2 linked regions of the Homo sapiens genome follow. The protein of the gene in region 2 interacts with the protein of the main gene of each other region in a pairwise test. Each region holds a gene or a part of one and is shown on either strand. Other genes may lie near its edges. The genes, in order: HLTF and SULT1C2.

Region 1 (2,780 bases), on a different chromosome or scaffold from region 2:
GAGTTTTTGTTAAGAGCCAAACATCAAATGTGCCCTTATATTTTTAATGAATCTCATCCAAATGCTAATGCATAAACCTTGACAAGTAGTATAAATAAAACAAGAAAAAAATACAGCAATGTCTTTGCCATTCCCCAAAACAAAGCACACACTGCCGAAGATCATTAGTACTCACTGGTAACAAACTACATAGGGTTAGTTTGTATTTCCAATTCTAGAGCTGTAATTTTAAGGACAAAATGTACAATGATTGATTAAGAGTGCTATCTGTGTATATATAGGTATTATCACAACTCCTTTTTTTCTTCCAGATGAAGAAATTAATTGGGACCAATGTTTTTAGATCAAGGCATTTTAAATAAGCACTCTTGATTTCTGAACAAGAATTTCAACCAGCTAAATTGAGCAAAATAAAGTTAGTTAGGATATGAGGACATTATTCTGTTACAGTAATCTTCATGTACTCTCAAAAAAATGTAACACTTGCATAGAAATGTCACAATTAATGAAGGATTTTATTTGAAGATAAAGTCAAAATTATGGCACCGAGGAAGGTAATAAACATTTGAAATTTTTATTGATTTTTAAATTTAAAATCCAGTTTTAACCACAAAATTGTTTGAATCACAAGTGGTAATACAATGTCTTCAATATTTTTCTAAAGTTATTTTTCTATATAATAATAAGACAACAGCATAGCATATAGGAAGTTTTCATTCCAGTGGCTTTTTTATATATTTATCCTTCTTAGGAAGGACAAATTAAATTTTTTAAATTAAACTTTTAAAATATAACAACATCTAACAGAACTGTACAAAACAAAGAGACATTTTTTAAACAACTTGCCAAACTTACTTATGAGTGTGTTTTAAAAACAACTTTGTAAATGTCTGGGCAAAGAAGCAAGCTGTCCTCCCTTTACCTTCATAGTGAGTTTGTAAGGCTTTGTCTTTGTAAGCAGAAAGAGTAGACTGTGTTGTTTTTTGCCAAAAACTGTTTATACTTAATCTCACTGAAGTATTGCTATATGGAGAACCCATACTCTGATCAACTTGATTTTTTGTGTGTAATGCTTGATCTACCAGGTAACTTCCCAACTGCTCCTAATGCTAGCGGGCTAATCCCACATTATTATTCCACTATCATCCCTGCAGAAAGGTCTTGGTTTTGATGAAAATCAGCCCTTTCCTTACCTGCTACTGCCTCAAAAAGGGACCAGGAAGATTCTAGCTGGCTAATTCACTGTTCCCTTTGAGCAAGAAAACGGCACAGGGAGAAAAGGACTTATCTGGTGAGAGATTTGGCATATACCTTCAATGTGTGCCCTATAACACAACATTGTCTCCGATCTCATCTTTCTATCAAATGACTTCCAACACTCTTAAGTCTCAGGTATTCTTAAATCTGTATCATCAAACATGAAGCTTCTCTTGTTTGTTAGAGTAATTAATCTTTCTTTGGATTAAAGTTTCCCTTTGAAATAAAACCACCTACCTAATCTGACTGCTAAATTTCTAGCTTCTTTGTTTTAAATATGCTCAGGAGTCAACCCAAATTCTGCAGCAAATAAGTTTGCTTATTAACAAAAAAGTAAAAAAAAAAGAAAAGAAAAAAGATGACTAATTCTACAGATAGCTGTAAGGATGAATTACTCAAGTTCAAAATCAAATTCTGATTCTAAACACATAACAATTGTTTACATTCAGGATTAAGATGTCTTTAAGAGTTGAAACGACTTTGGAGATCATCCAGCCCAACTTCCATCCAGATATCACGCCTCTCACATATAGTAGTCTTCTGAATTATAAAAATTTATAAAGTTACTTCCAAAAAAAGCTACATAAATAAAAATTATCTATTTATAGAAATATCTATTTAGCAGTTCCATAATTTAAAATATTCAAATCAAATTGGGTAGGACTGGTTTGCCTCTCACTCCCACAGACTATATTTATACCTCAGACACAGCAAGTTACATTTAAACAATGAGTGTAGTACTACTTAACTAAAATGGAAAAAATAGTACTCTTAACATAATCCCTAATTTTTTCATGAACATAAAACTCCAAGTCATTTATGTGAACTATATCTCAATGTAGCTGTAGGAAAAATAAAAACCTGTGCTAACCTGGACTTTGGTCTCATTTAAGATTTGGTTCTGGAATGCAAATATGGTTTTTGAAAGCCCAATAAAATTAATTCTTGTATAGTCTGTATATATTGTTTACAAGGACTACAAACACTGCATCACAAATCGGAGGCTTTGGTAAATAACTAAGTGTCCAACATAGAAAATAACTATTTGGTCAAAAGTATAAAAGGTCTGACCTTATTTGAAATACGAAAAAGCTGAGTACTTGGAAGATACGTGAAAATACTCAGCATAGATATTATGAAAAGCTGAATAACAAAGTAACCTTTTTTCTCAAATTATTTCAGGCCACAGTATATAACGGAACTTATTGCTATTTGAAGTTTCATTAAAAATAGGTTCATATATAGAAGAAATTGTGTCAGTAATACCTCTTCACTAATATAAAATATGCCCCTTTTAGAAGACGTGTTCTCTAGATCTCATTTCTAAAACTCTGTATTTTTCTCATTTCTAAAACTTAAGTATCCAATCAAACTGACCTTACTAAAATCCCACAAATTATAAGTCAATTAATGTTCTGATTTCATTAATTTTGGCTTGTTTCATTTCGTCAGCATTTGGTTTTTTAGTTCCAAAGGCTCCTGCTGCAAGTTCTCTCTTTTTGTTTTGTATTTTCAGCATATTT
Region 2 (4,538 bases):
GAGGAGGGATAAGAACAAACATTTCTTGCAGGCCTTCTATGTTAGGTCCTTCGTGGACTTTTCTTTTTCTTTCTTAATTCATATGACAATTTTATTAGGAAGGAATAATTATCACCCTCATAAATGTGAGGAAGCTGAGAGTCACACGATCAATAACTTGCCCAGGATCGCAGCCAACATCTGTATACGAATCCTATGTTCCTTCTTTAAAAATTGCCTCTTGTTTTTTTTTATTGTGAATTTAAAGTTATACATTGCAGAAACTTTGGAAACAGTCCAAATGTACAAGGAAAACATCTATCACACAAGAGTTGTTATTATTTTGATGTATTTCTATCTGTCTTTTTCAAATGTATATTGTTGTAGGCAGAATAATGGCCCTAAAGATGTCCACGTCCTAATTCCTAATACATTACATTGTGTGGCAAAGGGCTTTGCAGATGGAATTTAGGTTAAGAACCTTAAGGCAATGAGCATGTCCTGTATTATCCCGGTGGGTCTAATGTGACCACAAGGGCACTTAAAAGTGGACAAGGGTGTAGAAGAGCAGTCAGAGAGTCGTGTGGCAGAAGAAGTGGCTGGAGAGTTTGGAAGCATGAGAATGACTCAACTTGCCATTGATGGCTTAGAGACAAAGGGGAACACAAGACAAGGCATGACCTCCAGAAGCTGAGAATGAACCTCAGCCAACAAGCAAATGGGACCTCCATCCTACAGCCACATGAATCTGAATTCTGCCAACAACCAGAATGAGCTTGGAAGGGATTCTTCTTCAGACCCTCCAGAAGGGAACGCAGCCCTGCCAACACCTTGATTTTACCCAGAGACACCTGTTTGGACTTCTGACTTACAGAGGTGTGAGATAATAAACTTGTATTGTCTTAAGCTGCTAAATTTTTGATAATTTGTTATGGCAGTGATAGTGATAGAAAACTGTTTATACATAGTTATGAACAAAAAGTATACATATATATAAACATAAAACTACAAAACACTTTTTGGATACTGCTGTGGTTTGGATGTGGTTAGTCCCCACCAAAACTCTCTGTTGAAGTTTAACTGCCAGTGTGGCAGTGCTAGGACACGGGGTCTTGTGAGAGGTGTTTGGGCCATAAGGGTGGATTCCACATGAGTAGATTAATGCCATCTCCCAGAAGTGGGTGAGTTTGGTCCCTTTATACATGCCTGCTTGCCTTTCTATTTCTTCACCATGTCTTGATGCAGCATGGCCCTCACGAGAAGCTGAGCAGATGCCAGCACCATGCTCTTGGACTTTTCAGCCACCAGAATCATGATTCAAAATAAACCTCTTATATTTATAAATTACCCAGCCTCAGGTATTTTGTTATAGCAACATAAAATGGACTAAGACGGACATTATCGTGGTTTGAATTGTGTCTCTCTAAGTTCATATGTTGAAGTCCTAATTCATAGTATATTAGCATGTGGCTGTATTTGGAGATAATGTCTTTAAATAGGTGATTAAGTTAAAATGAGGCTGCTAGGATGAGACCTATTCCAATCTGGTATCCTTGTAATGAGAGGAGATTAGGACACACAAGGCAACACCAGGGATGTGTGCACATGGAGGAAAGACCATGTAAGGACACAGTGAGAAGGTCCTCCATAGGGTGGGGGTGAGGGGATGGTGAGTCCAATTCTGGGGTTGAGTCTGATGTATTTATGGGACTTCCCAATGTACACCTGTAGGCAGGTGTACATGTGAGCTTAGGGCTCTGGCCTTGAACTAATGCCCTGAGAATAATCCACGCAACACATTGACCAACTCTGTGGTAGGCGTTGTGCTCTGGGCAGGTAGCTGATGACCGAGGGCCTGGGCACAGCTGTGAACATGTGTGGAAGGGCACCTGCTGCTGCTGAGGACCAGGGCGGTTAAGGGCTTGGCTGTCCAGTGAACTATGGATCCCACTGTATTGCTCTTGTTGGAGGCCTGCACGGGGAGTGATAGAACCTGGCTAAAGCTGGGAGAAGGAGATGCAGCAAGAGATTGAGGCAGCTGGGTAGTGCAGTGGGAGCAGAGGGATCTGCCAGTTCCCACAGGAGAAGTCCCAAGTCCTTCTCACCCTCCCCAGGCCCCTCATTGCTGGGCCACATCAGCACATGGTTCCTGCCCTTGGAGAGTCAGGCATGTAGACACATACATTTCCCCTTGAGCAGCCAGCAGGGACATTTTCATCATATCAGGCCAGATCACTATGGCCTCCTTTGTGGAGGCATCCCTGACTCTGTAAACAGAAGTAATCACTCCTTTCCATGGGATCCTATAGTATTTTGTGTGCAAATTTTATAGGTCTTACTCCACGTCCTACAATTACTTGCTTATAAGTCTGGACCCTTGGAGCACAGGATCTGGTTCAGTCCCCTTGCAGGCCCAGCATGTGTCTTAGTCAATGGCTGGCATAAGAGGAGGGCTGTCATGGAAGAAGAAATAGTCTTGGCCAGAGAAGTTGAGCTGGCCCTGGAGGAGGATGGGACAGGGAGGGTATTTGGGAAAAGATCAGGGTGGGAGACAGAGATAGTATTACAGGAGAGAGAGCTTTTGGAGGTGATTTGAGGGGGGTCCTGAATTTCTAGGTCTGAATTTTTAGGCTGGAGGCTGTTAACAAAACTCTTTTATATTATTTTATCAGATTCTTAGGATCTTTTCTGGTTTGAATAAATGCATCTGTAAAGCCACACCTATGTGGCTAAAGGTTAAAAAATAAATTAACGAGTTAGGTACAGAATTTCTTTTAAGCCATATTCTTACCTTCAAGTTCCAGCTGAAAGTCAGCAGCTCAAAGGCCCACTCAAGGGTCAGTGGGCACGGAAAGGACTTTCACAGGAAGCAGACGGCAATTGCAGAGGCTCAAATTACTACTGTGTCAGAGTTACGGGGGCGCTCAGCAGGTAGCCAGCACTTTGGGAGGCTCTCAGCTTCAGTGTGGGAAGTTGAAGCTTTTACTGGAAGAATCCGGATTGAACAGAAACAAACCCTGTGACCTGGCCCTGGGAGGGAGAACTTCTCACTGTACCATGATCACTCATGTGACCCTGACTGCTGTGCAAATACCAACTCCCTCTAGTTCATATGAACTAAGGGCACACTCTACTCCTCCTCTCGGTCACCAGCTAGAGTTTTTCACATCTTTCCTGGCCCTCAGCTGCCTGGCCCCTCCCTCCTCCCACTGGCCTCGAAGCTTAAACAGGTGGGGGCTGGGGGGAAATGGAAGGTTGGCTCTAGGACCAGATGCATCAGGCTTCAGGTAGGCTCCTGCTTATTTGGTGAACTCCCTTTTCCTTCCTCCTTAGCCTGAGATTTAATTTCTGCATCTATGAAGTGTGGGTAATACTGCCTGTCTCCAATCCATGCTTTAAGATTGAAAGCAACAATGTTGATGAATACACTTTGCAGAGCAAATAGTAAGTGCTTAAAACTGCTGGTTCTTCTTTCCTTTCTTCCCAAGTTGTATTCATCCACACCGAAAATGCAGAGAGGATAGAACAAAAGTCTAGAGCTTAGGTGTGTACTTATTTTTTCTTTGCCTTATTGTACAAAAGGTACACTTTAGTGGAGGCAGATTATATTCCATGGTGTCTTTGGTTACCTGGGAAATTAAATGGATCAAGTGTTAATGATCTCTGAACTGCTACTCTTCTGCCAGCCCCAACCTTGTATCTACCCCAGTGCTTTCCTTTCTGGAATTGAAGCATAATTCTGCACCCCATCTGCCCTTCTTGCCAAAGCTTTCCTTGTCTTCTTTGACCCTGAACCTCCTAATGCTTCTTTGCCGACACTTCTTCTTCCTCCTTGTTTCCAAAGGGCTCTTTTTTTCCCAATAAATTGAACTTTCTTTTTCTTTCTTTTTTCTTTTTTTTTTTTTTTTTGAGATGGTGTTTCACTCCTGTTGCCCAGGCTGGAGTGCAATGGTGCAATCTTGGCTCACTGCAACCTCCGCCTCCCGGGTTCAAGCGATTCTCCTGTCTCAGCCTCCTGAGTAGCTGGGACTACAGGCGTGCGCCACCATGCCCAGCTAATTTTTTTTTGGTATTTTTAGTAGAGACGGGGTCTCACCATGTTGGCCAGGCTAGTCTCCAACTCCTGCTCCCAGGTGATCTGCCCGCCTTGACCTCCCAAAGTGCTGGGATTACAGGCATAAGCCACTGCGCCCGGCTGAACTTTATTTTTCTACTTCTGCTCTCTTTCCAGTTCCACTTATCCCAGTGCTGTCAATTTTCAGCCCCATAGGGCTGATTCACAGTTCTTAGTGCAACCTCACATTTTCTCTGCAGTTAAAGTCCCTAAGTCTACTAAAGTGTCTGCCAGTATCGGTGCCATGCTGCGCTGCATGCTGCATCTCCCTGCCTTTGCTGTCTGCATGGGTCACAGTCTCTACAATCCCAGAATTTACAGTTAGTAACCACTGCTAGTATCTGCTTCCTCCACATTTGTGGAGGATGAACTGGGATGTTGCACAATCTTCTAGCAGTCTCCTTATTTCTGGTCTCTTCCCTACTAGTCTCTCATACTTTCAGCA

The links.
Region 1: the proteins of SULT1C2 (region 2) and HLTF interact in a two-hybrid assay, tested with the Homo sapiens proteins (one large-scale study listed by BioGRID and IntAct).

Annotation. Positions count from the first base shown.
Region 1 is NC_000003.12:149,029,567-149,032,346, forward strand, and holds the end of HLTF (helicase-like transcription factor), read right to left. Parts: coding exon 2,654-2,780; 3' UTR 561-2,653; downstream 1-560. UniProt on the Homo sapiens protein: Has both helicase and E3 ubiquitin ligase activities. Possesses intrinsic ATP-dependent nucleosome-remodeling activity; This activity may be required for transcriptional activation or repression of specific target promoters.
Region 2 is NC_000002.12:108,287,303-108,291,840, reverse strand, and holds the start of SULT1C2 (sulfotransferase 1C2), read right to left. Parts: upstream 2,947-4,538; 5' UTR 2,771-2,946; intron 1-2,770. UniProt on the Homo sapiens protein: Sulfotransferase that utilizes 3'-phospho-5'-adenylyl sulfate (PAPS) to catalyze the sulfate conjugation of phenolic compounds. Does not transfer sulfate to steroids, dopamine, acetaminophen, or alpha-naphthol.